Linked DNA regions of Homo sapiens: region 1 is linked to region 2. Evidence: fine-mapped expression QTL. A gene starts in region 2. The other region holds a variant in brackets. All regions are shown on one strand. Distances are between the middles of the regions.

Region 1 (4,520 bases), 78 kb after region 2:
AACATTTCAGTGACAGGAGGAACAAGTTCAAGAGATCTATTGTACATCATGGTGACTATAGTTAATAATCACATATTGTATACTCGAAAATTACTCAGAAAGTAGGTTTTTGTTTTTTTGAGACGGAGTCTCACTCTGTCACCGAGGCTGGCGTGAAGTGGTGCGATCTTGGCTCACTGCAACTTCCCCCTCCTGGGTTCAAGTGATTCTCCTGCCTCAGGCCTCCCAAGTAGCTGGGATTACAGGCACCAGCCACTACGCCCAGCTAATTTTTTTGTATTTTTAGTAGAGAAGGGGTTTCACCATGTTGGCCAGGCTGGTCTTGAACTCCTGACCTTGTGACTCGCCCTGGCTTAAGGCAATACATATGTTGTGAATAAGCTTGATTTGGCTAGGCACGGTGGCTCACACCTGTAATCCCAGCACTTTGGGAGGTTGAGGTGGGTGGATCACCTGTGGTTAGGCGTTTGAGACCAGCCTGGCCAACATGGAGAAACCCTGTCTCTACTAAAAATACAAAAATTAGCAGGGTGTGGTGGTATGCGTCTGTAATCCCAGCTACTCGGGAGGCTGAGACAGGACAACTGCCTGAATCCAAGAGGGAGAGGTTGCAGTGAGCCAAGATCACCTCGCTGCACTCCAGCCTGGGTGACAGAGCGAGATTCCATCTTAAAAAAAAAAAAAAGTGATAATAACAATTAGAAGGAATGACTAAGATCTACTATTTAATAGTACAGCAGAGTGACTACAGTCAATAATAATTTAATTGTACATTAAAAAATAACTAGGCCAGGCGCCGTGGCTCACGCCTGTAATTCCAACACTTTTGGAGGCCGAGGTGGGTGGGTCACTTGAGATAAGGAGTTTGAGACCAGCCTGGCCAATATGGTGAAACCCCATCTCTATCAAAAACACGAAAATTAGCCCAGTGTGGTGGTGGGCGCCTGTAATCCCAGCTTCTCAGGAAGCTGGGGAGGGAGAATCGCTTGAACCTGGGAGACAGAGGTTGCAGTGAGCTGAAATTGCACCACTGCACTCCAGCCTGGGCGACACAGCGAGACCCTGTTTCAAACACAGACACACACACACACACACACACCAAAAACAAAACAACAACAAGAAAAAATAAAACAACTAAAAGAGTGTATTAACCGAGCGTGGCTGTGCACACCTGTATTCCCAGCTACCTGGGGGGCTGAGGCAGGAGAATTGCTTGAACCTGCGAGGCGGAGGTTGCAGTGAGCCAAGATTGCACCACTGCACTCCAGCCTGGGTGACAGAGTGAGACTCTGTCTCAAAAAATAAAAATAAAACATAAAAGAATATAATTGGATTGTTTGTAACGCAAAGGATAAATGCTTGAGGGGATGGAGACTGCATTCTACATGATGTGATAATTACACGTTGCATGCCTGTGTCAAAACATCTCATGTACCCCATAAATGTAATCACCTGTATATACCCACAAACATGAAAAACACAAAATACAAAGACACATCACACTGGGAGCAAGCATTTGGAGACAAAATACTATGCACTGTATGATCTAATTTATATGAAACTTCACAAGACAAGTCAAATTCATAGTGATAGCAGATTGGTGATGACCTAGGTCTCTGTCAGGGCTGGTGCTGAGATTGAAGGGCAGGAGGGAATTCTAGGGCTGATGGAAATGTTCTATATCATCAATATCTTGATGGTTGCCCAGCTGTATACCTTTGTTAAAACTCACTGAATTGGCCAGGCGCGGTGGCTCATGCCTGTAATCCCAGCACTTTGGGAGGCTGAGGCGTTTGGATCTTGAGGTCAGGAGTTCGAGACCAGCCTGGCTAACAAAGTGAAACCTGTCTGTACTAAAAATACAAAAATTAGCCAGGCCTGGTGGCGGGTGCCTGTAGTCCCAGCTACTTGGGAGGCTGAGGCAGGAGAATAGCTTGAACCTGGGAGGCAGAGGTTGCAGTGAGCCGAGATTGCACCACTGCACTCCAGCCTGGGCAACAGAGGGAGTCTCCGTCTCAAAAACAAAAACAAAACCAAAAAAAAAAACCTCACTGAATTGTAAACTTGAAATGAGTACATTAAACAATTAAAAAAATTTTTAAATTGAAGTAAAATACCATAACAACAAATTGACCATTTTAACTATTTTAAGCATACAGCTCAGTAGTGTTAAGTATATTCACATTGTTGCACAACCAATCTCTGGAATTGTTTCATCTTATAAAACTGAAAAAAAAAACCAACAAAAACTGAAACTTTACCGATTAAACGACGACTACCCATCGCCGCGTGCCCCAGCCCCTGGCACCCCCCGTTCGACTTTTTGTGTCTATGAGTGAGTTGACTCTGGGGACCTCCTATGAGTGGAATAATGTGGAATCATACCATATTTGTCTTTTTGTG[C/G]CTGGCTGGCTTATTTCACTTAGCATAACTGCCTGTGTCAGAATTTCCTTCCTTTTTTTTTTTTTTTTTTTTTTGAGATGGAGTCTCGCTCTGTCACCCAGGCTGGAGTACAGTGGCACAGTCTCTGCTCACTGCAACCTCCACCTCCCGGGTTCAAGCAATTCTTCTGCCTCAGCCTCCCAAGTAGCTGGGACTACAGGTGTGCACCACCACACCCAGCTAATTTTTGTATTTTTAGTAGAGACGGGGTTTCACCATGTTGGCCAGGCTGGTCTCAAACTCCTGACCTCAAATGATCCACCAGCTCAGCCTCCCAAAATGCTGGGATTACAGGCGTGAGCCACCACGTCTGGCCCACAATTTCCTTCCTTTTTAGGGCTGAATTATATTCTATCGTATGGATGGAGCACATTCCACTTATCCATTGATCTGTTTATGGACACCTAGGTTGCTTCAATCTTTTTTTTTTTTAACGGAGTCTTCCTCTATCACCCAGGCTGGAGTGCAGTGTCGTGATCTTGGCTCACTGCAACCTCCACCTCCTGGGTTCAGGTGATTCTCCTGCCTCAGCCTCCTGAGTAGCTGGGATTACAGGCACGCACCACCACGCCCGGCTAATTTTGTATTTTTAGTAGAGACGGGATTTCCCCATGTTGTCCAGGCCAGTCTCGAACTCCTGACCTCAAGTGATCCGCCTGCCTCGGCCTCCCAAAGTGCTGGGATTACAGGCGAGAGCCACCACATCTGACCTGCTTCAATCTTTTGACTATTGTAAATAATACTGCTATGAACATGAGTGTACAAATATTTCTTTGAGACCCTGCTTTCAGTTCTTTTGGCCACACACCCAGAAATGGAATTCCTGGGCCATATGGCAATTCTATTTATAATTTATTTGAGGAACTGCCAGAAGCTTTTTCCACAGTGGCTGTACCATTTTACATTCCCACCAATAGTGCACAATTTTGTCACATTCTCACCAGTACTTTCATGTTCTGTAATTTTTTTGATGGCAGCCATCCTAATGATTATAATAAATGGGTGCATCTTATTGTATATAAATTACATCATGGCTGGGCATGGTGGCTCACACCTGTAATCCCAACACTTTGGACAACAAGGCAGGTAGATCACCTGAGGTCAGGAGTTGAGACTAGCCTTGCTGACATGGTGAAACCCCATCTCTACTAAAAATGCAAAAATTAGCTGGGCGTGGCAGTGAGCCCCTGTAATCCCAGCTAGTCGGGAGACTGAGGTGGAAGAATTGCTTGAACCCGGGAGGCAGAGGTTGCAGTGAGCCAAGGTCGCACCACTGCACTCCAGCCTAGGTGACAGAGTGAGACCTCATCTCAAAAAAAAAAAAAAAGAAAGAAAAAGAAAAGAAAAGAATATTTATACCTGGGTCAAGTGAAAATTAGACAAAGAGAGACATATGGCCACCCTAGATAAGGTAAGTTACCTGTGTGTATTTTTAGGCAAGGAGAGAGTTACAGTTATATCTTAGGTGGTAACATCTTACGGGTGTTAAAGGTTTATTGCAGGTGTTTCCAGTGGTTTTTCTTGAGTTGAGTTACTTCCATCAAGGTGTACAGGTACTTACAGACCTATTAGGGCATGCTATGAAATAGTCACAAGTGGTTACTGTTGTGATATGGGTGAGCTCCAGCTAAGCTTTTGTATTAGTCAGCTACTGCTGCAGTTAACAAATTATCTCAAATTTAGTGACTTCAGACAATGCAAACTTATTATCTCACTGTTCTGAAGATCAGAAGTCTGACACTGATCCCATTGGACTTATATTAAGATGATGGCAGGGTTGCATCCTTCTGGGGGAGAATTCATTTCCTTGCCTTACATAACTTCTAGAAATGGCTGCTATGGTTTGAAAGTTTGTGTCTTTTCAGAATTCATGTGTTGAAACCTAACCTCCAAGATGACGGTATTAGAAGGTGGAGGCTTTAGGGGGTGACTAGGTCATGAGGGTGGGGCCCTCATGCATGGAATTAGTGCCCTCATCAATCATCAGAGACTTACTTGCCCTTTCTACCATGTGAAGACATGGCAAGAACATGGCCATCTGTGAACCAGGAAAAGAGCCCTCACAAGACAGAGTCTGC
Region 2 (4,000 bases):
GATTACAGGCATGAGCCACCATGCTGAGCCTTTAAAATTTTTTTTTAACAAATTTATTGAGCCAACGTTCCAGAGGCCACAGCCTGAAATGAAGGTGTTGGCAGAGCTGTGCTCCCTCTGAAAACCAGGTCTCAGGAGCCCTCCTTGCCCCTCCCTGGCTTTTGGCAGTGGCCTGCCGTCCTTGATGTCCTTGGCTTGTCACTGCAGCTCTTCACTCCCTGCCTCCGTGGTCACATGGCATTCTCCCTCTGTGTCCCAGTCTTCATATACCCATTTCCCCACCCCCCCAACCACCTACACAGAACCAGGCAGACATATAACTATCTTACAAGGACACCAGTGATATTGCATTAGGGGCCTACTCTACTCCAGTGTGACCTCATGCTCACTGCTAATATCTATACTAACCCCATTTCAAATAAGATCCTATTGTGGGGTATTGGGGATTAGTACTTCATATCTTTTGGGGGTTAGTGGTGGGGTGGCTGGCCCTAACAGCTCTCTGTCCCCCCAAGGGGTCAGGCTGAGAAGCTGGAGGCGGTCCTGGCTTCCATCCCCCCAGGATCTGGAGGGTTCCCCGCCTTCCCCTGCTCAAAACTCTTGAGAAGACAAAACCCAAACACCTAGGGGTTGTGGAAATGTTCTAAAATGGATTGTGGTAATGGACACACAACTCCAAAAATACTGAAAGCCATTGACTTACGCACCTTAGGTCAGCGAGTTGTATGGTATGTGAATTATATCTCAGTAAAGCTGTTACAAAAGGAGGAAGGGGCAGGGTGCGGTGGCTCATACCTAAAATCCTAACACTTTGGGAGGCCAAGGCAGGAGGATCCCTTGAGCCCAGGAGTTTGATACCAGCCTGGGCAACATAGGGAGATCCTGTCTCTTAACAACAACAACAAAATCAACCGGGCACGGTGGCGTGCACCTGTAGTCCCAGCTACTTGGGTGGCCGAAGTGGAAGAATCCCTTGAGCTCAGGAAGTCGAGGCTGCAGTGAGCTATGATCGTGCCACTGCCCTCCAGCCTGAGCAACAGAGCGAGACCCGTCTCTTTACAAAACAAAAACAAACAAAAATGGGGAGGAGGGAGAAGAAGGAAGAAAGGAAGGGAAAAGGAAAGGAAAGGAAGAAATAGCTCAAACTCCTACCTACGGTTGCCAACCGTCCTGGTTTGCCTGTGACTGTCCTATTTTTAGCACTGAAAGTCCTGCATCCTGGCACTGGGATGGGTCAGTCTGACCTTGTCCTACAGAAGTCTGGCCCCTGCTGCCCCCACCCTCCAGCCTTCTTAAGCTCGGGGCTCCTCCCTTCTCTACCTGGACATGCTGTGTGGCTGCTTCTAGAATCCATTTAGGGATAATGTCAAAAGGCTGCTTCTTCAGAGAGGCCCTCGGGGGTCATCCTCAGTAAAGTCCCCTCCCACCCCTACCTTCTGTGGCACTTGTTGTCACATTAGTTTATTTCCTTTAGGGCAGCATGGATCCTTTCCTATCTCCCCCAGACCTTCGGGTCTGATTCACTCCCTATGTCCCATGTAAGTGGCAGGGGGCTTGGTACCTTCATCAACACGGCCGAGCGAAGGAACCAGCTCAGACCAGCAAGAGTCTGTTTGCACACATACCTCGCACCTTAAATCGGAGACCTCATTTTGTATGGGTGCTGCTGGGGCTGTGCCTTCCAAGCGACAGGACACACAGCAGAAGCAGCTTCTGAAATTCCGAGTGTGTGTCTGTGTTTGCAAGCATTTGAGGGCGTCACTCACCCCATGTGTGTATCAGCATGTTAATTCGATTGTTGGTCCACGAGGGTAAGCGTTGCGCCTCCCGGAAGAGGGTAAGGCTGTGACAAATGCCCCCTGGGGACAGGCTCCTGGCTTGAACCCAGCAGGCTCACTCGTCGTGGCCTTGGATTAGGGATCCCGCTAAGCCTCGGTTTCCTCGTCGGCACCGCAGTCCAGGTCGGAACATTGGGCAGGACTGAATGAAAATTATGTCCAGGTGCCTGCACACAAGAGGTCTCCAGGCCTCCTGAATCCATCAAAAGTTATCCAAGACGGCTGCTGCTGCTGCTGCTGCCTCTAAACCCTGAAGTACAGAAGGCAAGTGGGTCAAGATCCCAGGCCCAGACAGTGGCGGCCCGGTGGCATCGAGTGGGTGCCGTGTATCTTGCAGGCACAGAACCTCCCGGGGAAGATGGAGGGATTATTGCCCTGCGATCCTGCTTCGCACGCAAGCCAGGAAGTGTGTGTCTGAACTCCCATCTGTGAGCGTGTCGTCGAGGTGTGCACCTCCAGCGACTTCGTGCTCGGCAGCGCGGACGCACCTGCCCGTCCTCCCCGCCAGGGACTCAACTTCCTGGGCCTGGGCGAGAACCGACGGCGGGGAGGGGCCAGGTGCGCAGGGGGCGGGGACAGGGCCCGCGGGGCGGGGTCCACGTGGGTGACGCGCGGGGCCACGCCCCCACCTTGGGACACACCCGGAAGCGGCGGCGGCGCCCCTCGGGGAAGATGGCGCCCTCGGGGCTGAAGGCGGTGGTGGGGGAAAGTGAGTGCCTCTCCGGGGCCGGGCTCTGGCGTCCGGTGTGGGACGGGGGTCGGGGACGCACGGGCTCTGGGATCCTGGGTTTCATGGCGGCTGGGAGTTGGGGGCCGGGCTGGGCGTCCGAGCACCTGACCCTCGAGGGGGCGGGCGGGGACGGGTTCCCAGCTGGACGCCCCTGCTCTCCGGTGCCAGAACAGAACAAAATTGGGGGGCCGGACTCCGGGGACCCAAAGGGGACGGGTAGAGTGTGGCGGAGGCTGGGGCCCGGACTCCTGGGCCTCCTAGGGTGCCTGCCGGGGGAGGAGGGCACAGCTGGATGCCCACACTCTAGGATCTCTTAAGCCGGGCAAAGTTCAGGGGCTGGATTCTTGGGGCCTCCTAGGGCTCTGGTCAGCGACCCTAGGTGCTGTGAGCGCTCAGGGGACGTGTCCAGGCCCCACAGGGGTGGTGTAGGGGATGTCTTCCTCCTTGCCCCATTTCCAGGAGCGCCTTGCAGCTGGAGGACGCAGGCGTCCAGGCCTCACCGGCCCCGGTTCTTGGGGGAAGGGTGGAGGGCGCCTCTTCCTCCACCCCGGGGAGTTCCGGCCTCAGCTGCTCCTTCCGCCCTGGCCGTCTTGATAACAGTGGACATGACACAGTGGACGTGGCTGGGCGGGGCCACCCCGTTACTTCTCTCCACTCTCTCCTCTAGGCAGGGCGGTCTGTAGCTCAAACCCCTTTAATTGGGGGAGATTAGAAAAAAGTGATTCCATTTTACAGATGAGGAAACTGAGACCGGAGGTCAGTGGGATAGCCTCAGCTAGGCATGCCTCAGAGCTGGGAACCAGGGGTCCTACATTTTAGACCAGGTTGGGGGGACTGGCTGAAACCCTCACAGCAGGAATACTTGAGGTAGCAGGTGGGGAAGCCGAGAGCCTGGCGCTAGAGGCAGATAGAGCTGTAGATGATCCCGGTTCTCCTCTTTTCATTCACCTAAAACATGTTTATCGAGTGGCACCTTTTGCCCCAGCACTCTGCCACTTAGACACTCAGGATGCGTAGGTGAGTTACATGTTGCCTAAGAATCTGTTTCCCTGTCTGTAAATTGGGGGTGACCCCAGAAGCCAATTTGCAGAACTGGGGGCTAAAAATAAATGATTCCTGTGCCGTGTCTCACACCTGTAATCCCAGCACTTTGGGAGGCCGAGGCAGGAGGACTGCTTGAGGCCAAAAGTTTGAGACCAGCTTGGGCAACATAGCGAGACCCCATCTATACAGAAATAAAAATAAATTAGCTGTGGGTGGTACATGCACCTGTAGTCCCAGCTACTCGGGAGGCTGAGGCAAGAGGATCGCTGGAGCCCAGGAGTTGGAGGCCGCAGTGAGTTATGATCACACCACTGCACTTTAGCCTAGGTGACAGAGTGAGATCCTCCTCTCTTAAAAAAAAAAAAAAAGTAAATGGGAATTAAGATGG

The links. PIP is the estimated chance that this variant, and not a neighbour inherited with it, causes the effect.
Region 1: its variant is the best candidate, but not a certain one, in a credible set for the expression of STXBP2 in whole blood (TOPMed, PIP 0.50).

The regions. Positions count from the first base shown.
Region 1 is chr19:7,712,564-7,717,083 of GRCh38, forward strand. No RefSeq gene overlaps it. Among named protein-coding and RNA genes, the nearest start is that of FCER2, 13 kb to the left of the region's middle. The variant C/G (reference allele first, on the strand shown) is at 2,404.
Region 2 is chr19:7,634,640-7,638,639 of GRCh38, forward strand. It overlaps STXBP2 (syntaxin binding protein 2), which reads left to right and starts at 2,471. Exons shown (of 19, transcript NM_006949.4): 1 at 2,471-2,547. The coding sequence starts at 2,511. It also overlaps a transcript of PCP2 not described here. RefSeq lists enhancers at 2,017-2,544, 2,545-3,073, 3,074-3,600 and a silencer at 2,289-2,578.